7 linked regions of the Homo sapiens genome follow. The protein of the gene in region 6 purifies or fractionates together with the protein of the main gene of each other region. This does not show direct contact. Each region holds a gene or a part of one and is shown on either strand. Other genes may lie near its edges.

Region 1 (4,200 bases), on a different chromosome or scaffold from region 6:
GGAGGCAACAAAAACAATTATGTTCCTTGTGATGTGTCTAAACTTTATCCTTTGCTTTGGCAGAGATGGCGTGGGGATTTAGGGGAGTGGGACCTTGAGGCTTCTTCAGTTCAGATGTCAAAACGCCATTATTTGGGGGTATGTTTCTGCGCCTCCAACACTGTTTAACAGGGAGGCTTGTTTCATCCAGTAAGGGAGTCAAGAAATGGTTCCCCGAAGAAAACGATTCTTGAAATCTGACAATAAATGAGGTGTCAAACAGGCAAAAAGTGTGTCGGAATGAGCACGGATGAGGGTAGGGTGGAAAAATCTTGGTACTTAGTCTGTGGGAAGACCTGAGGAAAAAAAGCCACTACAGTTTATAGTTCAGTGTATGGTGGGCGAACGAGATGAAGCCGAAAACTTGGACAATCAGGGATTGTCCAAGAGCAAGGGAAAGCCACCAAAGATTTTTCAGCAGATTGCCGTGATCATATTTGTATTTGAAGACTACAACGATGCTGTATGAAAAATGGATGCACAAAGCCGAATTGGGAAGCTATTGTTCCTGGAAAGTATAACCCTGAAGGCGGAGAGTTGTAGAGAACAGAACTGATGTTTAAAAAGAAAAATCCACAAAACGTGGTGGTGGAGCACGTACCTGAAGTTATGCCTATTGCGCTTCTGATTTCAAATAAGTAATTGTTTTAAATTGCCTACTAACATAAAAAAGCCCAGTCGATTCCAAACACTGGCACCCAGGCGTGAGAATCCATGGTTATTTCCTTGGGTGAGCTTTATTGTATTTTTGCGGGCGCTATGGAAATGCTCCTCCAGGCAGTACAGATCAGCAGCGGCTCGTAGTGAAGAACGTTCAAGGAAGAGTTTGTCCCGGATCAACAGGACATGGGGCTTGGGAAGCCTGGACTGCCATGAGGAAGGTCGATTCACCACTACAGACAGGGAGCCTGAGGCCTGGGTGGTGCCGACAAGTCGGCAGTCACGCCAGGTCAGGAAGCGCCGAAGCCGCGGGAAACCCTGGACTCCATCCCGGGATTTGTCCCCGTGTCGAAGATGGTATCCAGGTCGCCGAAAACTTCCCGGAAGTTTAGACCAAGACCTACTTATTATCTACGGTGTCCGGGAAGGTCCATGATTGTTCCACATAAAGTCAGAAGGGAGGAAAGGCGCACGCGCATTGGGGACTTGACTCTGGAAAGCGTCCAGACCAAGGTCAGCGGAGAGTAGGCATGTAGCTTCTGCAGTTGCTCCTCCTCACCCTCCGCGACCTGATTTCCTAGAAGGGCTCTGTCACCCGAAAAGATTTTCCACTGGCTTAGAGGAGGGAGGGCCCGCCTTCCCCCGTTATCCATTGGCTGCTCGTTCCGCCGCAAGTTGGGGGCGGGGTTAGGGCGCCTTTCGATTGCATCAGCTGGTCCAGCCGAGGCCAAGTCCCGGGCGCTAGCCCACCTCCCACCCGCCTCTTGGCTCCTCTCCTCTAGGCCGTCGCTTTCGGGTTCTCTCATCGCTTCGTCGTTCGCCAATGTTTGAGGAGAAGGCCAGCAGTCCTTCAGGGAAGATGGGAGGCGAGGAGAAGCCGGTGAGCAAACTTGGTGGGACCCAGAGACCAGCCTGGGACTCTAGTGGGTGCAGACGCTACGCTCGCGGCGGGAGCGGGGGGCAGGAAGCAGGAAGCGGCCGGGACCGCGTGGGTCGGAGAAGTGGGGGATGGTGGGACTCCTGGAAAGTCGGAACCCCCTTTGGGAACCATCCATTCATAAATTAGGGTGGGGCCTTGCAGTTCATCTGTGGGTCCATTCTCTTTACAGATGAGGAAACAGACCTTGAGTGAGCGACTTGTTCAGAGCCTCACATCTACAGTAGTTAGACGCGGAGACAGAATCAGAATCTTAGGCTTGAGGCTTCCAAACTTGCGTTTATGGCTTACTGTAAGCGGGAAACACATTGCAGAGCCTTATTTAATCAATCTCCTAAGATCCTGCGGGGGTAAAGAGCTCCATTTTAAGGAAAGGAAAACCGAGTGCCCGAGATCTGACCCAGCTTGTCCAAGTTTGGGTGGTTAAGTATACATTTTGCCCGGCACTGATCTGGGCGGTGCATGTGGGAAGATGAATAGGGCCCAGTTCCCCGACTTTGAGGGCCTCACAGGCTGATGTGTAAGAGACAGGAAAACAGCCCTAGTGCTTTGTGATCAACCTTGTGGTATTACAGAAGAGGAAGTTTAGGAAGGCACTTTAGAATTTAGTTTGGAAGAATGATTTCACCAGGTAAACAGGCAGGACGGGGCTTCCCACGTAAAGGTAGGGAAGGCAGTGAAAAGGGGCACGCAGGTGAATTGTCTTTCGGGTTGTTTGCAAGAGATATGCCAGAAGGGTTAAAGGAACAGTAATCAGAAGGATCTTAGGCAACAAGGATGTTTGAAACTTGTATTCTATACATGAAGGATCTTAAGCAGGAAGATTGTATTTGTAAAAGTCACGCTGGCATTGGGATAGAAGGTTAGGCCACATGCAGAAGGCTGTTGTAATAGTCCAAGTGAGAAGTGGTGACGTCTTCAGCTAAGGGATCCTCTATCCCAAGTCTGTGACAGGACAGTTCACTTAAAAGCCAAATTTTTTTCTTGATTGTCCACTCGAGATTGAATGGAGAAACTGCATACGGGCACATTCTAACTATGTAAATTTAATTCTAGATGATAAATGGTGACTATACGTAGATTTTTTTCACATAAAATGATATTTTTACTGTTTTGTAACTTTTTTTTTTTTTTTTTTTTTTGCTTAATAGAATGTGGTCAACAACTTTCCATGTCCATAAATATTCTCCTGTGCTATTCTTAATTGGACGTGATATGTATGGTTAACACATATGTAATTTTTCCTTCCTGTAATAATTATACAATAGTTAATATTTATTTTGAGTACTAAATACGAGTTTGGCACTGTATTAATGCATTCCATGAATTAACTCATTCAGTCTTCTTTTTTTTGAGACGGAGTCTCGCTCTGTCACTCAGGCTGGAGTGCCGTGGTGCGATCTCGGCTCACTGCAAGCTCCACCTCCCGGGTTCATGCCATTCTCCTGCCTCAGCCACCAGGCCTGGCTAATTTTTTGTATTTTTAGTAGAGACGGGGTTTCACCGTGTTAGCCAGGATGGTCTCGATCTCCTGACCTCGTGATCCGCCCGTCTCGGCCTCCCAAAGTTCTTGGATTACAGGCGTGATCCACCGCGCCCGGCCTCATTCAGTCTTCTTAATAACGCTGTGAAGTGGGTTCTGTTATTATCTCCATTATACAGATGAGAAAGCAGGCGTAGGAACAGTAACTTGCTCAAACCCAGTATCCCCGTTTTTTTCCTTCCTCAAACCCAGTATCCTATAGCCAATACTAATAACCCCTGTGCTGTTCTGAGTGAGTCAGGGACAGATCATTCCTGAGAAAGGTAATTCTGTAGCTTCTCTTCACAATCCGGTTCTGTTTCCCAACTTTTGGGTTGAGATTTTAGATTACTTGTATGTAGATGTACATACCATATATACTCAGGGAAATAGAGAACAGTTGCCTACTCTCTTCCCAGTGTTGTAGAAAAGGGGTCATAGGCCTCAGGGTTCCAGAGAGACCTGTTGTAATTTCCCAGCTCTATTACTTAATGATACAAATGGGCAAGTTACTTCTTTGAGCCAGTGTTCTTGTTTGTAAAATGGAGCCGTATTTAGAACCAGAAAACCTTTGTGGTGATTCCCTCTCTCTCTCTCCCTCTCTCTCTCTCTCTCTCTCTCTCTCTCTCTCTCTCTCTCACTACCCCTGTTCATTTGGCAAATGGTCAAAACCAAAATAATCTTATCAGAAATATAAAACTTATTTTATCATCTTTCCATTTTAAACCTGCACAGACCTGCAATTTTTCTTTCTTTTTTTTTTTTTTTTTGTTGTCGTTGTTGTTGTTGAAATGGAGTCTTGCTCTGTCTCCCAGGCTGGAGTGCAGTGGCGCGATCTCTGCTCACTGCAAGCTCCGCCTCCCGGGTTCCAGCCATTCTCCTGCCTCAGCCTCCCGAGTAGCTGGGACTACAGGCACCCGCCACCACGCCCGGCTAATTTTTTTTGTATTTTTTAGTAGAGACGGGGTTTCACCGTGTTAGCCAGGATGGTCTCGATCTCCTGACCTCGTGATCTGCCCGCCTCGGCCTCCCAAAGTGCTGG
Region 2 (3,500 bases), on a different chromosome or scaffold from region 6:
TGGTAGGTCATAACCAAATCCCCAGTCCTAGCCTAAGACCTAGTAAGGTCAACAGGAAGTTGTTCCTAGTTGCAGGATTGTCCCTGAATGCTGCTTCGGATGGCATCTTCCACGTGGAGCTAAGAACAGAATGAAGCCACAGGCTTATTCAGAGACCACAAGCTTCACAACTTCTGTTTAACACATCTAATTATGATTGTAACAATACTGTCTGGTTTTGATGCTGTTACGTTTGAAGGTAGATCCCAGCCACTGATCAGAGCATTCAGATGGATCATCTTCCCCCAAAGCCCAGGGCTTCTTTCTGTCTCCACAGCACCCCCAGCTCAGGGGTAAAGTGCCCTAACCCTAGGACTGGTGAGAACCACCTTCCCAGTTCAGTTTTCTCCCTGTCTGCAGGTCCATCTATCTTCTCGCTCAGGATGTGGGTATCTCTTAGAGGGTGAAGGGAAGTGATTTGTCAAATGGTTACCAAGGGCATGGAGAAAGTTAATTTACCTCTTAAAATGACTTTTATATTCCTTTTACATTGGTGAAATTCATTCTCCTGTTTTTTTATGTGTGTGATGTTGAGAGATTCTCAGTTTTGATTGAATAAGATCATAATCTCATTTTTATTTTAAAATTGAACACTTTTATAAAGCTTAAATGAAACAAGACCAGTTAAATTTTTGAGATGGAACTTTTGTGGAAAATGCTGAATGTTGGAGGATGACGCAATGAGTTCTCCGGACTGCCAGCCTCCCTTCCCTAGATATTTGAAATTATATTAGGGCAATTAGATTATAACTCAAACTTCTGAAAACCATTTAGAGATAGATAAGAAATTCATTTCACTGTATTGTACTCTAAATTGTAAATGAGATTCAAGATTAATTGTTTAATAGGTTGAAGTTTTAAATTGAAACTTCCTTCTATGTTATTTTATATCATATATGCTTCACCATGAAGGTTGATTTGAAACCAGAGTTTCAGAAATACCAATATTATTATATTCTTTTCATCTAAATTGAAGTTATTATTATTTTTTTAACTGGTCCTGGCCACTTCTTTGTATCTCTCAAACTGCCACTTTCTTTGTCATTTTTACAACTATTAATAGGTGGCCGATTGTACTGAGCCTGAGCATAGAATAAAATAAGTACAGTGGTCCCCCTTATCTGTGATTTTGCCTTCTGCATTTTTAGTTAGCCCCAGTCAACCTTGATCCAAAAACATTAAATGGAAAATTCCAGAAATAAGCCATTTATAAGTTTTAAATTTCACACTGCTCTGCATAGCATGGTGAAATCTCACCCCGTCTCACCCAGGACGTGAATCATCTCTTTGCCCCGTGTGTCCATGCTGTCTCTGCTACCCACCCGTGAGTCACTTAGTAGCTGTTATGATTATGAGATGAGAAAAGCATAGTATATATAAGGTTCAGTACTATCTGTGGTTTCAGCCATCCAGTTGGGGGTCTGCAGATAATGGGGGGTGACTATAGAATTTCTTAGCTTGGCTGGGGAGCTAAAAGCATAGTTCCTACTATTCTTGCCAGAAAATGGGAAAAAATGTTCAATCCCATAATTTTATTATATGAAGTAGTGACACGGACAGGAGGCAGAAACAGTGGGTAGAAGAGGGCGGTTCCCAGCAAAGGCCCCACCCTCAAGCCTGGAAACCCACAGCCCTAAATGGGAACAGGCATTCCTGTTTTTGCATCCAAAAGCTGCCTATTGGCCCACCACACCCCCCTCTCCTGTATCCATATAAACCTGAGACCCCAGGCTCCAGAAGGAGACAAGGAGATGAACAGAAGAGCAGAAGAATAGCAGAACGGCGCAACAGAGAGAAGGAGCATCTGAATGCTAAGAGGGAGTTTACCTGGACATGATCGGAGAGGAGATATGTCACTGGACAGCCAAACTCCAGGGGAAGACCATCTTCCCACTCCATCCTTCTTCCACCTCCCCATCCATCCCACTGGGAGCCACCTCCATCACCCAATAAAAGCCCCACATTCATCCTTCAAGTCCACGTGTGATCTGATTTTTCCTGGATGCCAGAGAAGAAACAGGGAAACAGAAAACTTTCACACTGGCCCTCTGCCTTTGTGGAAAGGCAGAGGGTTCACTGAGCTGTCTAACCCTTAAGCTGCCTGTGGACCGCAAGGTTAAAAGAGCGCACTGTAACACACACCCACTTGGGTTTCAGGAGTCGCAGATACACACCCCTGGACGTTGCCGTGAGGCTGAAGCCTAGGGGCACTCATCCCAGCTCCTGCACCTGCCCATCTGTGTGCTCCCCTTCCCGTAAGGGGTTTAAGCATGCACGGTCACCAAACAGACAAGTTACACCACTGTGGCACATCCTGCAAGCGGGGGGGGAGGGGGGTCAGGGAACTCCTGTTTCAGTAGATATATCTGATGAAAATAATGCTCTCCTGAGGGGATGATCGTGTATGTGGTGTGTGTGCGTGTCTGTGTGTGTGTGCACGCGCATGCATGTGCCATGACTTTTAGCACGTGTGCATGTATGTGAGGGCTTGTCTGGGCAATAGTGTCATTTAGTCAGCTAATGGGAACAAGCATCAATGCTGTTCTCTTTACAAGGCTCCTGTTTGTCTCTTTCTTTCAAGTGTTCCTCATTGCATGTTCTTTTCCTGAGAGCCAGCGAGTCTTTTCATAGCTTGGAGACAAAGAAAATTACTCAGAACCATCTTGCTTGTGGTGTTTCAGGGAATCTCCCCTAGGCTGCTGCCATAGTAGGCGAAATGTATTGGTTTTGACTCTGAGTCTCGTGTAGGTTACCAAATGGCGGATTCTTAGCTCTGTGATTGCCGTGGCTCAGCAAGCACCCTGAGCTGAACATCTAGTGGTTTTAACTTACCTCCTGTTGGTCTTGGTGAAACGGTCCTGGCACACTTGAGCCATTTACTCAACATATCCTTGAGTGCCTCTCATGTGCCTGGCCCTGTCCTGGGTGTTTGGAATACATATGTAAAAGCCACATAAAGGCTATGTTCTTGGAGTCTCCATCAGGCTCTTTCATAACTTTCAGTTTCCCACCTTCTGGAATGAGAGGTCACTATTCCAGGCTGTGGGAATGCGTTCATTTGCTTGGCTTTTTTTTTTTTTTAAGCTTCTAATTTTGTATAATGTATGAATGAGACACCATTGCTGCCCTCAGGGAGTTTGTGTGTGACAGAGAGAGACGGACAGGCAGGCAGACGTGTAAGTACTGTGCCACCAGCAGACTGGCTTCGTGCCAGAATAAGGTAGGAGCCTCAGCTCTGAGGGGAGGCAGGAGAAGGAAAGAACGGCTCTTCAACTGGGGTGGCATTTTTTGACAGAGGTGCTGTTTGGCTTAGCCTATGGTCAGAGAGTGCTTGGGGGATGTGACAGTGGGGCATGTGGGAATGGAGGTAGTAGACGATGAGGTCTCCACCCTCTGACTTTGCAGAGATGGGCAAGGCCAAGTGTTGGAAGGGCTTAAACACACACCGGAGTATTCTGTGA
Region 3 (3,500 bases), on a different chromosome or scaffold from region 6:
ATACTGTAGGTAGAGAATAATTTAAAACCCCTTTTAGTAGGTCATTAAGTAAGATGCTTAGATTATCACTTTTGGGGGATGTTTTCAGGGCTGGAGAAGAGGACCTTCCTCAGTTAAAAACAGACAAAAAATTTACTCCTTATCCATTCTGCTTAATTGGGCTAAATGAAATCCTTCTATTTTTTTCAATAGAGCTAAAATTTTTAATCTTCAGTTCTCTAAATCCTTTTTAAAAATGTGGTTCCATCTTAAAATTAAATTACATTATTTTAAAAAATGTAGTTAGGAAGTTAAAATGTGATGTTAAAATATAATTATTAAAATATAACTAGTTCCAATCTAAAAAGAAATTATAAGATTGCATTATTGAATTTCAAAGACCATTTTCTGAAGACTTTTCCTTAAAACTTACTAAGATATTAAACCTGTATGTTTTATTCATATGCATTGATAGATATTTACATTCACAGGTATTGTATTTACAACTAACGATTTTTCAATTTACTACTGTAGATCATACCTCACTCCTGTTAGGGATGAAGAGTCTGAATCCCAAAGAAAAGCAAGATCTAGACAAGCAAGACAATCTAGAAGATCAACACAGGTATAGTTAATGTAATTAATATATAAAACTTACATAAGTAGCATATAAAATATATATACACACACTGACATAAAACAAGTTACCTTTCTCTTTTTCACTTTGTTGTGAAAATATTGATGTCAGTATATAGTGTGAGTAAATCCTTAAAAGGTAAAGGTTGCTGTAGTTATTCTAGTAATTCTAGTGTGAATAAATCCTTAAAAGGTAAAGGTTGCTCATAGCCTTTTGTATGGTTACACTGCTACTATTGTATTTCATCTAATTAGCATATGCCTTTGTGTCTTTTTGAGTATTTTTTAAATCCTTATTCCTAATACAGTGTCTGGCCCAGAGTATTTGGTTAGAATAAATTAATCATATGATGTCTAATAAGTATTTAAAAGTTCTATGAATATTTGGAAATCGGGGGCAGAGAATAGGCTCGTATATTAGGTATAAACAACTAATATGCAAGTATGAAGAAAATGTCATTCAGGCTGGCGATCTCCTTACCTCCGTTTTGCCATTCTGATTATGCTGTATATGATGTATACTTTTGTGTCTTTCTGCTTTCCCACAGTTAAGAAGCTCCACAGTCCAGATTCAGCTGTCTATCCTTACCATTACTTAGCTTTCAAGCTGAACTATTTGCTAGGGCCTTAATATACTTTTTCTGTCTTTATACTTTTCACTTCTTGAAATCTAACCTGTTCTTCAAGGTCAAATCTTGAAAAATTTATCGAAATCTCTTTTAAGCCTTAACAATCATCATGCATGTGTATATAGATACATATACACACATATATATACACACACACAGACATATATATAAACATAAATATTTATAATATACAAACAGTACAGATACTGGCTATTCTTCTCTAGTTTGAACTTGTGGGGAACATTTATATGCATAGAGTATCCAGTACCTATCGTTGTGCTTGCTAATGGTGATTCTTCATAGAATGAATGTAACTTGCTGTTTCCATTTGCAAACCAATTTTAAACATGCATATTTGACTTTTAATGCATTTGTATGTAATATATCTATTTCTAAAATATTCCTTGAAACAAGCTTTAATGCATCTCATAATTATATTGATCTTTTTGTGTGTGCAGGGAGTGACATTAACTGATCTTCAAGAAGCTGAGAAAACAATAGGAAGAAGTCGTTCTACCCGAACCAGAGAACAAGAAAATGAAGAAAAAGAAAAAGAGGAAAAAGAGAAACAAGATAAAGAGAAACAAGAAGAAAAGAAGGAGTCAGAAACATCTAGAGAAGATGAATATAAACAAAAGTACTCCAGAACGTATGATGAGGTAACAGTATATCAAAAGCACATTTAAGTCAAATGGTATGAATAGTCCTTATGATCCTTAACATACAAGAGATTTATATACCAACAAACCATATGCAAAATACTGTAAAGGATTTTAGCTGGAAATTTGAATTACTTTGGCGTGATTAGTATACTACTTTTTCTTTGAAATGAATTTTTAAGTATTTTTATGTTTTTAATTGTGTTTAATGTTTCAAATGGGTTTTGATCTTAATGTTTCACAGACTTACCAGCGTTATAGGCCAGTATCAACTTCAAGTTCAACCACTCCATCCTCTTCACTTTCTACTATGAGCAGTTCACTGTATGCTTCAAGTCAACTAAACAGGCCAAATAGTCTTGTAGGCATAACTTCTGCTTACTCCAGAGGAATAACAAAAGAAAATGAAAGAGGTAAGAATACCAAATTTTGAAAACACTTTGCTTTCTTCATATAATCCTTTGGATTAGGGTTTCCTAAATAATAATTCAACAGTAAAGGAACAGCATCCTAACTTGTGATTCATCGAACCTAAACAGAAAGAATATGAAGGTTGAGAATGAGAAAAGTAGAAAACAGAAATAGAATATGGCCTGCTGTTGATACTAATATTTTTATAACCTAATACTTCACAAAAATCTTCATGTCCACCTACAACGAAAAGTTAATATCGAACTGGTGGGTGACTATTTCTAGAAGCAGTTTACTAGTGTAGTACTTCTCAGATGCTTTAAGCTATTTCTTGCCTACTGTGTAGATCATATCATTTAAATGTTTTTTTGTGAAATTGTTGTAAACTAAAATTACTAACTACATGTAATGCTCTCACTAAAACACATTTTTATGCTTATTTCTTAAAAAATACATTTCTTTCTCAACTATATATTGGCATATTGATACTCATTACCATTTCCTATTATTTTATATAAACTTTCTATTTAAATTCTGAGTAATTCCTACTTTAAATCAGATATAAGTACTAAATATAGGCATTTCATATTTTAAAGCCTAAATCTTACAGTATTAGTCATGATAATATCAGTAGTAATGTAGAATAAACAGCAGAAAATAAAGTTTTTTCCCAATTTCCAGCTATATATTTTCTCATGTTGATCATTGAGATGTTTCAGTTCTTTAAACTTCTATGTGTGAGGCCTGCATTGTGTTTGTAAAAATGTTGAACCAACATTTAAAATTAGAGATACTCACTTCAAACTTCAGATTTTTGCCATTTCTTGAAAAGTTGGCTGACCTGGCAACACTGGATCTGAATTCTCACATACCAACAATTGGCTGGAGCTAAGTAGTAGCAGCTGCCTACCTTCCATCCCCCTAGATAGTCCCCTGGCCCATTTTACCCATTGTTTTTACAATTACCTTGCAAAATATTGTCAAGATATATTGCTATATTGTGGTTCATTGCAATCCTTAACAGAGGGAGAAAAAAGAGAAGAGGAGAAAGAAGGAGAAGATAAATCACAACCTAAATCAATCAGAGAACGACGACGACCAAGAGAGAAAAGAAGATCTACAGGAGTTTCATTTTGGACACAAGATGTGAGAACCTATTAAAATACATTATTTGATAGTATTCTTG
Region 4 (3,500 bases), on a different chromosome or scaffold from region 6:
TGATGATGTGCTAACTTTCTCTAAGTTTGGCAAATAAGTATAGTAAATGTCTCATTTAGGCTTTTGTGATTGATGTCTTTTTTTTTTTCTTTTCAGTGTACTTCCCCAGGTATACCAGCCCATATGCAAAGCAGATCTATGTTAAGACCTCTGGAACTATCTTTACCCAGTCAAACGTCATACTCTGAAAATGAAATTTTAAAGAAAGAGTTAGAAGCAATGCGAACTTTCTGTGAGTCAGCAAAACAAGACCGACTGAAGCTCCAAAATGAACTGGCACACAAAGTGGCAGAATGCAAAGCTTTAGCATTAGAATGTGAAAGGGTCAAGGAGGATTCAGATGAACAGATAAAGCAATTAGAAGATGCATTAAAAGATGTGCAGAAGAGGATGTATGAGTCAGAAGGTAAAGTTAAACAAATGCAGACCCATTTTCTTGCCCTTAAAGAACACTTAACAAGTGAAGCAGCCTCAGGGAATCACAGACTAACCGAGGAACTGAAGGATCAGTTGAAAGACTTGAAAGTAAAATATGAAGGTGCTTCAGCAGAAGTGGGGAAATTAAGAAACCAAATCAAACAAAATGAGATGATAGTAGAAGAGTTTAAGAGGGATGAAGGCAAGCTGATAGAAGAAAATAAGCGATTACAGAAGGAACTTAGTATGTGTGAAATGGAGCGAGAGAAGAAAGGAAGAAAGGTCACAGAGATGGAAGGCCAGGCAAAAGAATTGTCAGCGAAGTTGGCCCTTTCCATTCCAGCTGAAAAATTTGAAAACATGAAGAGCTCATTATCAAATGAAGTGAATGAGAAAGCAAAAAAATTAGTAGAAATGGAAAGAGAACATGAAAAATCACTTAGTGAAATTAGACAGTTAAAGAGAGAACTTGAGAATGTTAAGGCCAAGCTTGCTCAGCACGTCAAACCAGAGGAACATGAACAGGTTAAGAGCAGATTAGAACAGAAATCAGGAGAACTTGGGAAGAAGATCACTGAGTTAACATTGAAAAATCAGACACTACAAAAGGAAATTGAAAAAGTTTATTTGGATAATAAGCTCCTCAAGGAGCAAGCACATAACTTAACAATTGAAATGAAAAATCATTATGTTCCTTTAAAAGTAAGTGAAGACATGAAAAAGTCACATGATGCAATTATTGATGATCTTAATAGAAAGCTTTTAGATGTAACACAAAAATATACAGAAAAGAAGTTGGAAATGGAGAAATTGCTACTGGAAAATGACAGCTTAAGTAAGGATGTAAGCCGCCTAGAAACTGTGTTTGTACCTCCTGAGAAACATGAAAAAGAGATAATAGCTCTGAAATCCAATATTGTTGAACTTAAGAAACAGCTGTCTGAACTTAAGAAAAAATGTGGTGAAGACCAGGAGAAAATACACGCTCTCACATCTGAAAACACTAACTTGAAGAAGATGATGAGTAATCAGTATGTGCCAGTTAAAACCCATGAAGAGGTTAAAATGACACTGAATGACACGTTAGCCAAAACTAACAGAGAATTATTAGATGTGAAGAAAAAATTTGAAGATATAAATCAGGAATTTGTAAAAATAAAAGATAAGAATGAAATATTAAAAAGAAACCTGGAAAACACTCAGAACCAAATAAAAGCTGAGTACATCAGCCTGGCAGAGCACGAGGCAAAGATGAGCTCGCTAAGTCAGAGCATGAGAAAGGTGCAGGATAGTAATGCTGAAATCTTGGCCAACTACAGAAAAGGCCAAGAAGAGATTGTGACACTGCATGCCGAAATTAAAGCCCAGAAGAAGGAGCTCGACACAATACAAGAATGCATTAAGGTAAAATACGCCCCAATTGTCAGCTTTGAGGAGTGCGAGAGAAAATTTAAAGCAACAGAGAAAGAACTAAAAGACCAGTTATCAGAGCAGACACAAAAGTATAGTGTCAGTGAAGAAGAAGTCAAGAAAAACAAGCAAGAGAATGACAAGTTAAAGAAGGAGATTTTTACCCTTCAGAAAGATTTGAGAGATAAGACAGTTCTCATTGAGAAGTCTCATGAAATGGAAAGAGCATTAAGCAGAAAAACAGACGAGCTAAACAAACAGTTAAAAGACTTGTCACAGAAATACACGGAAGTAAAGAATGTGAAAGAGAAGCTAGTAGAAGAAAATGCCAAACAGACTTCTGAGATACTTGCAGTGCAAAATCTTTTGCAAAAACAACATGTTCCATTGGAACAGGTTGAGGCTCTGAAAAAATCTCTTAATGGCACAATTGAAAATCTAAAGGAAGAACTGAAGAGTATGCAAAGGTGTTACGAGAAAGAGCAGCAGACAGTGACCAAACTGCATCAATTGTTGGAGAATCAAAAGAACTCTTCTGTACCCCTGGCAGAGCATTTGCAGATTAAAGAAGCATTTGAGAAAGAAGTTGGAATCATAAAAGCCAGCTTGAGAGAAAAGGAAGAAGAAAGCCAAAACAAAATGGAAGAAGTCTCCAAACTTCAGTCGGAGGTTCAGAATACTAAACAAGCATTAAAAAAATTAGAGACTAGAGAGGTAGTTGACTTGTCTAAATATAAAGCAACAAAAAGTGATTTGGAGACACAGATTTCTAGCTTAAATGAAAAATTGGCCAATCTGAATAGAAAGTATGAGGAAGTATGTGAGGAAGTTTTGCATGCCAAAAAGAAGGAAATATCTGCAAAAGATGAGAAGGAATTACTGCATTTCAGCATTGAGCAAGAAATTAAGGATCAGAAGGAACGATGTGATAAGTCCTTAACAACAATCACAGAGTTACAAAGAAGAATACAAGAATCTGCTAAACAAATAGAAGCAAAAGATAATAAGGTAGGTACAAAGTAGTCTGCACGGCTATGTGTTGGAAACCCCAGAGCAGTGCTCTTTACCACAGAATCTCACAGGAAAGTAGACACAGGTATTAACAAAGTGACCCTTTCCAGTTTAGCAACTTGCGTGCAAAAATTCCGAATTGAAAAAAAAAGTGAAGTAACACAAAAGTCAAAAGCATTTTTCCTTCTGTTTCTTTAGCTGTTCTAGCCAAGAATTCAGGAACGATGGGGAGACTTAAGGCTCACTTGTCTCATACATGAAGAGTCAAAAGCCAGTGGGTTTGTGGCATATGAAAGATGGGGAAGAGGGTGGTGGGGAAGCTCTCTTTCTGGGCTGCAAGAAACCAAGAACACTGGGGAGCATCTAGAGTTGATCTCGGTACTCACCCATAGTAGTAAACTGAGCCCTCCAATTCATTTTATGTTCTGTTGCTCATGTCTTTCTACAGACTAGAAAGTCTACATCCCCTCACCCAGAATGTCCTTTCCCTCCTTTCTACTGAGTTGAATCCTATACATTCATTAACATGTTATCCTCCTTCTTAAAGCCCTCACTGTCCAATCTAGTCTATAGTAAACAGTTCCTCCTCTAAGGTGGATGTTTTACTGTGGCTTTGCCATCCATTTAAAACATTTATATTACCTTGTTAGAATTATGTAGTT
Region 5 (3,050 bases), on a different chromosome or scaffold from region 6:
CTTGGTTCTATTAATGTAACAGGTGTGCTAACCAACCATTCCCGGCCCAATCACCCTAATCGTGCTGACTATATGGAATGGATTCCCTTCGATAGTTACTACCCCCCAAGACATGGACCCAATGTCTTGACCCACTGGCTAGAAAACAATCTATGTTAACTGGAGACATTGTGGATTGGGGACCTAAAGGTCAACTATATGGAAAACATGAAAATCAGAAATCATGGCACAAACTTCGCTGGCATTGGTGGCAAGATTTTAATGCTTCTTCTTTATACCACACCGGGATCTAATCCCAGTCTGCCACCCAGATTGCTTGACATGGAGCAGGCTTTAGCCCGCCTCTTCCTCAGTGGCATTATCTAGGGAGGAAAGGACCAATCCAAGAGATGTTATGGAAGGCAGCACTCCCATTTATGAATGGCGGGATACTATCCAGTGATAGCAATAGTAAGCAACACAGTCTTAATGTTACATTTGTAAAGAATATCACCACTCAATTTATGGTTTGTCTTTTTAATCCTTATGTCTTTTTTGGCAACTAAGAAGGACCAGCTCCAGGTAAACAATATCCAATTGACCTGTAAATCTTGCCAGTTATGTCACTGCATTAATCATAGCACATTGCAAACACATAATGTCTCTACTTTGATAATTTTGGGTCGCATCCCTGGGCTATGGATTCCTGTTAATCTGTCCCAGCCTTGGGCTACCACACCTGCTTTGCACTTCATGAAACATCTTCTAACTCAACTTACTCATTGTGCCCATAGAGCCTTAGGCATGATAATTTTTGCTATTGTTTCCTTGGTCACATTAATAACTTCCGTTGTGATGTCCTCTGTAGCTTTGCATAGTTCTATTCAAACAACTCAGTACATGGAAAACTGGATGCGTATAGCCAACCAAGCATGGCCACTTCAGAATAAAATTAACACTGAGTTACAAACTGAAGTGGCATTGTTGAAATCCACGGCTCTACAGTTAGGAGAACAAGTACAAAGCTTGCAATTGCAACAGCAATTGCACCATCATTTTAATCACACTCATATTTGTGTAACCAACTTAGAATATAACCAAAGTGAGTATCCATGGGACCTTGTGAAAGCCCATTTGCAGGGAGCTTGCACATCCAACATCACCTTTGATATCGGTGAATTACAAAACAAAATTCTTGATTTAAATAAACAAACTCAAGAGTTTCAGCCTTCTTTAGAAGACTAGACCAAATTCCAGCAAGGCCTGGAGAGCCTCAACCCTTGGACCTGTCTAAAGCACCACATTAACATCTTATATGTAGTCCTTGGAATAATGTTGTTTTGTCTCTGTCTTCTGTTCATAGTCTGTAAAATTGGATGGACTGCCAATCAGAAAATGAGAGCTGCCCAGCCTGGCCTTACATTCTTTCAATTAATTCATAAACAGAAAGGGGGAAATGTAGAGAGCTGAATGCCCATGGGTTGTGACCAACTCAGCATTCCACTGAGGCTATATGATCAAACAGCAAACTGTTTATCATAAATGCAGAATGTGGGCAAACTCACTTCTGCTTCAGCCGCCAGAAGGTTCGCTGAGGGCAATCACTCCCTGGCGCCATGCTCTTTGAGGTTATCTACTGAGACATCTAGAGCCTACTGTTCAAAGAATGCAATCTTGTGAGCCTGCTGTGAATCAAGCTGCTGACCGACAACCACCCCCCCTTCTCCCTATCTCCTTTACCCAATAAATACAAAGGGCACTAAAGCTCAGGGCCCTTTTTCACTAGAAGCAAGGAGCCCCCTGACCCCTTCTTCCAAATATACTCTTTGGTCTTTATCTTTATTGCTGTGTTCGTCCCCTTTTGTTCAGTCCAACAGGGATTAGGTCCACGTCACCTTTTAAACAACCAGCTCTTGAGTGAACTCATTACCATGGGGGAGGACACCAAGCCATTCATGAGGGATCCACCCCCATGATCCTAACACCTCACACCTTGCCCCACCTCCAACACTGAAGATTACATTTTAACATGAGATTTTGAGGGGATAAATATCCGTACTATCAGAGAGGTTACTTCAAATGTTCAGGTGCATGACATTTTGATATAGCTTTAAAAATAAGCTATTAGGGCTGTGCCCAGTGTCTCATGCCTGTAATCCTAGCACTTGAGAGGCCAAGCCAGCAGGATGACTTGAGGCCAGGAGTTCGAGACCAGCCTGAGCAACATAGCAAGACTCCATCTCTCTCTCTCTCTCTCAAAAAAAAAAAAAAATATATATATATATGCATGGTAGTGCACGCCTATAATCCCAGCTACTCAGGAGGCTGAGGTGGGAGGATCACTTGAGCCCAGAAGTTCAAGACCAGCCTAAACAACACAGTGAGACCCCATCTCTACAAAAAATAAGCCATTAGACTCTCAGGTTATTATTTTTATTATTGCCAGGTATCCTCACCCTTACTCCTGGCATGGAAGATACAGTAGGAGTCATAGATGGCTGTAGGTCAGGTGCTGTCTCATAAGTAAGCCATATCGCCAGGCATCACATCTATGCTCTCACTCTAATATATGTATATTGTAACCCCTTCTATGTGCCAAGGCAGGAGGATCACTTCAAGCCAGGAGCTGAAGACCAGCCTGAGCTACATAGTGAAACCCTGACTCTCCAAAAATAATTAGCTGACTGTGGTGGCACATGCTTGTAGTACCAGCTATTTGGGAGGCTGAGGCAGAAGAATCACCTGAGCCTAGGAGGTAGAGGCTGCAGTGAGCTATGATCGCACCACTGCACTCCAGCCTGGACGACGGAGTTAGACCCTGTCATTAAAAAATATAAAAAATGAAAATATTGTTAAGAAGCTCTTGAGAAGGCTCCAAGTACAGTTCCTGGCATGTAGTGGGTGCACAGTTAATACTTCTTGGGGCCACAGGATTGGGCATCAGATTTACATTTCACTGAAACTTTCTATACCATCTGCATCTATTTCCTTTTGAAAAATGTAAATAAAATCAATACAAATGAACAAATGTCAGCTCTGTTTTATCCTTCACAGAATAAGCCAAATGAGAG
Region 6 (3,500 bases):
CCCTCCTCTCCCCACCATCCAAGAATGTGAAATACCAGCAAACAAAAGTCTCATCCAAATTAGGAAGCGAGTAGCTCTGTCTGCCCGTGAGTGTGTGCTGTAGGGGCTGTTTTGGGATTTTGGGTTTCCCGACAGATCCCTTCAAACCCACAGTGCTATCAAGACTGAAGTTATTGTTGACCCCAACTCAGAGCTCCGTGCCATCTGGTCACTGCACACCGTTCCCCAAACCTAAGATGCTTCTCTAAACAGCTCTTTACTCAGAGCTTCTCCCTGGCTCCAGCCTCTGTGTCCCCCACCTCCAAGCCTGTAGACAGAGCCCTCTCCATGCCGGAGCTTGGAATTAACTCAGGCTCAGGTCTCCTCTGGGGAGCCACAGGTGGCGGTGCCATGAGAGGGCTCTGCCAGATGGGTGCCGAGATGTGGGCATGTGCCACAAGGACCAGGATCCCAGCCCTTAGCCCCAGCCTTGGTGCATGTACCCAAGGCCCCTGAGCCGGGACCTATCCTTGAGTTAGCAGGAAACAGGGACGCGGCCCTCCTACCCAGCAGGCCCTCCTACCTGCTAAACCAGGTTAGCAGCCTACCTATGGGCTGCTAACAGGGGTCAGCGAGACCAACGCTCCATGAGCTAGGAGTGGCCCTGGTACAGAGGCCCCTTCTTCCCCAACCCCCATGCTCATTTACCTTCCTGGGAGAGGATGATGAACTTGGTGGTCTTGAGGGTCTTTCCGTTCAGCGTCCAGATGATGGTGGCTGGGGGGTCAGAAGACACCTGGCACTGGAGCAGCAGCTTCTTGCCCTCTGCCACATGAACATCTTGCAGCTTCTGCTTGAAGGCTGGGGCTGTCCCCTGGCTCTCTGATCTCTTTTCATTATCTGTGGTCCCTGCATGGCCTCTCTTGCAGTTCACATCATTCTTAACGTCTTTCTTGAGTTCTTCTTTGCTAGCGGATTTCAGGTTCTCATCAGGCTTGGCATTGCCCATGGGCTTCAGGGTCTCGGCAGGCTTGGCGTTGCCCATTGGCTTCAGGGTCTCAGCAGGCTTGGCGTTGCCCACGGGTTTCAAGGGCCCTGAAGGCTGTGCATTGCTCAGGGGCTTGGAACTCTCCACTGCCTTGGCATTCAGGGTCTCGGCACTGCTGCTGCCATTCTCTGCTGGTAATTTCTTCTTGCCACCCAGCACTGAGCGAAAATCCGGGGTGGCAGGTTTTGGCGGTGGCACCTTCTCAGGCACGGGGGTCTTGGAAGTCCCCTTCTTGGCCAGGACAGAGCGAAAATCGACCTGCTGGGGGCTGTGCACCTTCCTCTCTTCCTCAGACACAGTCTTTGGCTTCACTTGCCGCTGCAGGTTGGCACGGAAATCCATCTGCTCGGCTGGGATCTCCTTCAGGTCGTCTTCCGATAGGGTCTTTGTACTCACCTTCTTCCCCAGGAGGTCTCGGAAGTCCAGCTGCTCCACCTCCTGCTGGCGGATCGCCTCCTCAGTGTGCTGCCTCGTCTCCACGCGCCTCTTCAGCACCCCTCGCACGTCCTCGCCGTCTTCCTCCTCTAGCCAACCCTGCCCTCTTGCTGGCCAGCCAGGCCTCAGGGACCCATAGCGGTCACTACCACCACCATCAGCACCAACTCCTCCACCACAGAGGTCCTCGCAGCTGGCAGGCTCCCTCCCCCTGCAACCAGTGTAGGGAAAAAGGAAAGTAGCAGGAGGAAAAGGGGCTGGGTAAGAAAGAAACTTCAGGGGAGAGCAAATCCCTGAGGGTGGGAGGGTAGAGGGGAGCGGGAGGGGATGGGGGAGGCCGGCCAGGCTGTGTTTATAGATGGGAACATTGGTGAGAGGCGCTCGCTTGCTTAGTTGGTTTATTACATCGGTAATGACTTCAGTAGCCTTATAAGGGTGTGTGCAAAAAAAAAAAAAAAAAAAATCACCCCCTCCTTCCCCTGCTCTCCCTCCCTCATTCCCCTTCCAGGCTCTCCCTTCTGGCTTTGGCAGCCTCAGCTGCAGGACACAAACAATCTAGGGCTGCTGGGCTGGAGCTGCCGGGGCCAGGAGGAAGGTGGGGATGGGGGCATGGCCTGGAGGGGCAGCTCCTGGGGGCACTCACCGTGGAAGGGCTCTGGCAGAGCTGTTCTGTAGCATCAGTGACACCTGGCAACTGCATTCGCCAACCCGGTTCCTGAAGAATTCCAAAGATCAATAAAGATCAAGAGGCCCTCTGGGCAAAGGGCCTGTTCAGTGTGGACTTGATCACAGGCTGCTGGCCAGCGGGGAAGATGGAAGTCGCCGGCTTGACTGAGACATTCACCCCAGCCTTAGATTTAGGGCAGGACCCTCTCACTGTGTGGTCACCCTTTATTTTCTCAGCTCTTATTTAAAAAGAAGAAGAAAAAAAGAATGTCTGGACAACAGCTAAGGCAGGCATCCAGAAATAGGAACACTTTTCTGTAAGTATATAATATAATCATTCAATCAATCACTCACTCACTCAACCAATAAAAGGGGAAGGAGAAAGGCTAACCCTGCTGGGAACTGTGATGTAGCAGGTTGGTCTAGACAGATAGGCCCTGGTGGTGGGCCTGCCCAGTGACCTTGACTCTGACTCCATGATCCCTTAACACAGAAGTAGTTCCTTTCCCTCTCTTGCTCGGGAATGGAAGCACCCTTAACCCCCACTCATTGATAATGCTCTCAGATCAGAACTTTTTGTGTTAAAAACCCAACAAGTGTTTTCCTACATGAGTGGCCCTTTCTCTTCTTCCTTCAGGTGGGGAGGGCTCTGGATTCTTCATGTCCATAAACCTGGTCAGTCTCCTGCTGGTGCACAGAGGCTCAGGCCCTCTGCTCAGGGGAGGGGCTGTACCCTGTCTGGCTACAGTGCAGTGGATTTGCAGCAGATTGTCCCTCCAACCCCATAAGGCTGCCACCTGCTGGCATTTCTGAGCTCTGACCAGACAAGAAGGTTCTGCTCAGGCTAGGGGAAGGGGTGGGGGCAGGTCTGCGAGCCAGAGGTGACTAGTGATGGTTGTAACAACTGCATTTCATACAGCACCCTCCAGCTTTCATGACACCCACACGCAGTTCTTTCTTGATATCCACAGCATGCCAGAGAGGTATAGAGTACTGCCATGCCCAATTTAAAGATAAGGAAAGGGGGCTCTGGGGTGGGACCCTCAGGGTCTCTGACAACAGTGCTCCCACTCATGCCCCTGGATGTGGCCGTCTCACTAGCACTCAGACCCAATAGCAGATGTGCCAAGCTCTGTGACAGATTCTTTACATGAGCCATCTCATTTAATCTTAGAACAGCTCTGTGAGATTAGAGTCACCACTGTTTTTATAAGGTAAGAAATATGAGGCTTATAAAGGTAAAGTAGTCCAGGCGCAGTGGTTCATGCCTGTAATCCCAGCACTTTGGGAGGCTGAAGTGGGAGGATTGCTTGAGCTCGCACGTTTGACACCAGCTTGGGCAACATAGCAAGACCTTACCTCTATTAAAAAA
Region 7 (3,500 bases), on a different chromosome or scaffold from region 6:
TAAGATGATTGTGTTTGTCCTTCCTGTTTTTTCTGTACGTCCCTATGTATTTCAGTGTTAGCAGTACACTGCTTATTTTCATGTAATATTGATGAACATATACTCATATCATTAACTATTCATCTAAAGCATTTTTAATGATAGCATAGTATTCTGTTTTATGGAAGTGCCATAATATGTTAGTTTGTGCCATATTGAAAGCATTAAAGTGTTTCTCATTTTTGACTGCACCGAATATCTTGATAGATGGATTTTTGGGTATATCCTTGATTATTTCCTTAATACAAGTTCTGAGCAAAGGTATACTTGTAGAGATTTTCAGTTAAATACTATTTGTTTTAAAGTTTCAATGCAGAAACTTAGATTATTCCTACCAACGTTATTGAAAGTAGGGCAGAATTTCCTTTTTTTGTGTGTGTGAGATGGAGTCTTGCTCTGTCGCCCAAGCTGGAATGCAGTGGCTTGATCTCGGCTCACTGCAAGCTCTGCCTCCCAGGTTCACGCCATTCTCCTGCCTCAGCCTCCCAAGTAGCTGGGACTACAGGCACCCACCACCACGTCTGGCTAATTTTTTTTTTGTATTTTTAGTACAGACGGGGTTTCACCATGTTAGCCAGGGTGGTCTCGATCTCCTGACCTCGTGATCCGCCCGCCTCGGCCTCCCAAAGTAGGGCAGAATTTCAGAATGTGAAACTGAAAGGAATTCTTTTATTTATTTATTTATTTTTTGAGATGGAGTCTCGCTCTGTCCCCCAGGCTGGAGTGCAGTGGGGCGATCTCTGCTCACTGCAAGCTCCGCCTCTCGGGTTCACGCCATTCTCTTGCCTCAGCCTCCAGAGCAGCTGGGACTACAGGCACCTGCCACCGTGCCTGGCTAATTTTTTTGTATTTTTAGTAGAGACGGGGTTTCACCATGGTCTCGATCTCCTGACCTCGTGATCCGCCTGCCTCGGCCTCCCAAAGTGCTGGGATTACAGGCGTGAGCCACTGCGCCCGGCCTGAAAGAGGAATTCTTGCCATTTTGTAACTCGTCATTATTCATTTAAGGTTGACTGGTGGAGAGCTAATTTTTACTATTGGCATCCGTTAGGTTCTCTTAATAATTTCAGCCAATGAAGAGGAGGAATTCTGAATGATGGCTCTATAAGATCAGGACTACCTATCATTTTAGCTACTTGTTCCACCAATAGGAACTTTGTAGAGATAATACCAATGTCAGTACAGGTTTCAGTGGCAGAAAACACTTCCCTTAAGGTTCAATGTCTATACTGAGCTGCCATGAATTCTTAACTAGTCAAATTCCCAGTGATTTTGGCCTTTGCTTAGATCACTAATAATAATGGCATAGGCATGGATTAATTGATCCTGAAGAATAGTACAGACTTTATGACAACTTGTAGAAAAGAATTGTCTTTTTATTGTCTAGTTAATGTCTTCTTTCTTATGGGAAGGAAGAATGTGGGAGAGGGTGAGAAATAGATTTGAGGAAGAATTTTCTCTGGCATCCATTACTGTCATGGATACATCATTACTATAGATATGGGAGCTTCCATCTTTGAGATGGATATAAATATTGATGGGGAATTATCTTATAAGGTAATATCTATGTGTAATTTGTATGAGAATGACAAATTGGGTTGGCATTTGTTAATTTAGGACCTCTGGCCATGTAGACAAATTTGCTGACTTCATGGTGAAAGACGTAAAAAATGGAGAATGTTTTCGTGCTGACCATCTATTAAAAGGTGAGGTTCTTCATCTCCTTCAGGTAGGATTGATCAAAATAAAAGGTTTAAACTTTCTCTCAGATGTCTTTCATTAAATTTTTTATTGAGGCATAACATTCAAAGAGCAAAGTGCACAGATCTTAAGTATATAGATCAAGTCCTTTATTTTTTAAAAAAGTTATATGTAGATAATTAGTTATATACAGATAATTTTTCTAATTAGCAAATGAATCAAGACAATACCATGACTGCTGTTGTAAAATCAACTGTGGGATTCATGTAAATTAAGAACTTTATGCTTGGATTTACTTTTTAATTGTCTAGCATTGAAACTGAAAAGTGCATTGTCCTTTTTCCCATTGATTGATATATGTCAACACTGTTCTTACAGCTCATTTACAGAAATTGATGTCTGATAAGAAGTGTTCTGTCGAAAAGAAATCAGAAATGGAAAGTGTTTTGGCCCAGGTGAGTACTCTAGAGATGTTATCAGAGTAACCTAGGTGGTCGCTGTCCTTCTTTCAGTGTTTAATGACTGTTGCATTTCCCATTATGCTGACCCTGGCCACATTGTAATGAAGCAGAGGTTAATTCTGTCCTGTATAGCGTCTCTTTTTTTGCATTTTTATTTTCTTCTCTCTTTTGTGACTAACCCTTTATTTCAGCCCAAACTAACAAGTCCGTGTTAATAGGCATTCAATTTGTCTGACCTTGGAAACTACTTTTCTGGATTTAATAGCTAAAACCACAGGAGTGACTGATGATGGGTAGTGTTCAGCACTGGTGTGGAGACTTCGGGGCAGATAACTTGATGAGCACTTTCTCACTGGCTACTTGATCTGCCTCTGCTTGGACCCTGATTTCATGCTATTATTCTTAGAACCTCATGAGCAGGTCCTGACTTTTCTGTCCTTGCTTTTCTCAGTTTGCCTATAGGCCTAAAGTTTTATAATTTGTATAATATTTAAGCTGACAAATTTTAGAGAAGACAAAAAAGAGACCACAGAGATAATTTATTCTGACCTTTTACCAATTGCAGGAATACTTTCTATATTAGAAGTAGTTCTTATCCTTTTGTTGGGTCACAGACCACCCTAAGAATGTGATCAAAACTGCACGTCTCCCTGGGAAGATGCATGTGCTCATGTATATATGTTGCTGGTGTCTCACCTCATCTGTTGGCTATTCCGTTTAGGCAAAGTACATTTCTCCAACACCATGTTTAGTCATGAGGTCTACTGAGGCTCACCTCTTAAATTTTATTTACTTCCTTGGGCAAAAAACAAAAAACCAATACTGTGATTATACCTATTTTCTTTACACCGATCTCTCTCTCTCTCTCTGCCTGAATATAGAACTCCCTAATATGTTGTTTTTCATGGGAATTACTGGATACTTTTCCACTGTTGTCCTAATTTTTTTTTTAGCATGCTTTTTTTCTCTGTGATAGTTAACTTTCCAACATAGCTAAAATAATTTCTCCTTCTTCATTTACATTGAAAACTTTCTTAATTTGGCTGTTGAATCATCTGCTGATTTATTTTGATACTTGTGGAGTGTAATTTTATCCCTTGCTTGAAGCTCATTGTTTTAGTAATTACTCATGGTTTAGAAAATTATTTCTTACATTTTGATACTGTTGAAGCCACACGTTCATCTCATTTTCTTATCCAAAGGCATGCCCTTTATTAGAAAAAATGGAAAATGCCTCTAAGTATCCCTAAAATTTTCCATTCAGAATTTTAGATTTACTGAGGTTTTGTGTATATGTTT

Evidence for each region.
Region 1: the proteins of MYLK (region 6) and TARS1 purify together in Homo sapiens (affinity purification with mass spectrometry; one large-scale study listed by BioGRID and IntAct). This does not show direct contact.
Region 2: the proteins of MYLK (region 6) and RHBDD1 purify together in Homo sapiens (affinity purification with mass spectrometry, with the first as the bait; one large-scale study listed by BioGRID). This does not show direct contact.
Region 3: the proteins of MYLK (region 6) and PPP1R12A purify together in Homo sapiens (affinity purification with mass spectrometry, with the first as the bait; one large-scale study listed by BioGRID). This does not show direct contact.
Region 4: the proteins of MYLK (region 6) and UACA purify together in Homo sapiens (affinity purification with mass spectrometry, with the first as the bait; one large-scale study listed by BioGRID). This does not show direct contact.
Region 5: the proteins of MYLK (region 6) and ALDH2 purify together in Homo sapiens (affinity purification with mass spectrometry; one large-scale study listed by BioGRID and IntAct). This does not show direct contact.
Region 7: the proteins of MYLK (region 6) and GARS1 purify together in Homo sapiens (affinity purification with mass spectrometry; one large-scale study listed by BioGRID and IntAct). This does not show direct contact.

The regions. Positions count from the first base shown.
Region 1 is NC_000005.10:33,439,565-33,443,764, forward strand, and holds the start of TARS1 (threonine--tRNA ligase 1, cytoplasmic), read left to right. Parts: upstream 1-1,400; 5' UTR 1,401-1,522; coding exon 1,523-1,579; intron 1,580-4,200. UniProt on the Homo sapiens protein: Catalyzes the attachment of threonine to tRNA(Thr) in a two-step reaction: threonine is first activated by ATP to form Thr-AMP and then transferred to the acceptor end of tRNA(Thr).
Region 2 is NC_000002.12:226,902,054-226,905,553, forward strand, and holds part of RHBDD1 (rhomboid-related protein 4), read left to right. Parts: intron 1-3,500. UniProt on the Homo sapiens protein: Intramembrane-cleaving serine protease that cleaves single transmembrane or multi-pass membrane proteins in the hydrophobic plane of the membrane, luminal loops and juxtamembrane regions.
Region 3 is NC_000012.12:79,795,598-79,799,097, reverse strand, and holds part of PPP1R12A (protein phosphatase 1 regulatory subunit 12A), read left to right. Parts: intron 1-513; coding exon 514-604; intron 605-1,702; coding exon 1,703-1,903; intron 1,904-2,147; coding exon 2,148-2,316; intron 2,317-3,338; coding exon 3,339-3,460; intron 3,461-3,500. UniProt on the Homo sapiens protein: Key regulator of protein phosphatase 1C (PPP1C). Mediates binding to myosin. As part of the PPP1C complex, involved in dephosphorylation of PLK1. Capable of inhibiting HIF1AN-dependent suppression of HIF1A activity.
Region 4 is NC_000015.10:70,666,059-70,669,558, reverse strand, and holds part of UACA (uveal autoantigen with coiled-coil domains and ankyrin repeats), read left to right. Parts: intron 1-96; coding exon 97-2,835; intron 2,836-3,500. UniProt on the Homo sapiens protein: Regulates APAF1 expression and plays an important role in the regulation of stress-induced apoptosis. Promotes apoptosis by regulating three pathways, apoptosome up-regulation, LGALS3/galectin-3 down-regulation and NF-kappa-B inactivation.
Region 5 is NC_000012.12:111,814,983-111,818,032, reverse strand, and holds the end of ALDH2 (aldehyde dehydrogenase, mitochondrial isoform 1 precursor), read right to left. Parts: 3' UTR 501-3,050; downstream 1-500. UniProt on the Homo sapiens protein: Required for clearance of cellular formaldehyde, a cytotoxic and carcinogenic metabolite that induces DNA damage.
Region 6 is NC_000003.12:123,699,333-123,702,832, forward strand, and holds part of MYLK (myosin light chain kinase, smooth muscle), read right to left. Parts: intron 2,446-3,500; exon of another isoform or gene 2,178-2,445; coding exon 2,106-2,177; exon of another isoform or gene 1,978-2,105; intron 1,674-1,977; coding exon 688-1,673; intron 1-687. UniProt on the Homo sapiens protein: Calcium/calmodulin-dependent myosin light chain kinase implicated in smooth muscle contraction via phosphorylation of myosin light chains (MLC). Also regulates actin-myosin interaction through a non-kinase activity.
Region 7 is NC_000007.14:30,601,378-30,604,877, forward strand, and holds part of GARS1 (glycine--tRNA ligase isoform 1 precursor), read left to right. Parts: intron 1-1,656; coding exon 1,657-1,745; intron 1,746-2,118; coding exon 2,119-2,195; intron 2,196-3,500. UniProt on the Homo sapiens protein: Catalyzes the ATP-dependent ligation of glycine to the 3'-end of its cognate tRNA, via the formation of an aminoacyl-adenylate intermediate (Gly-AMP).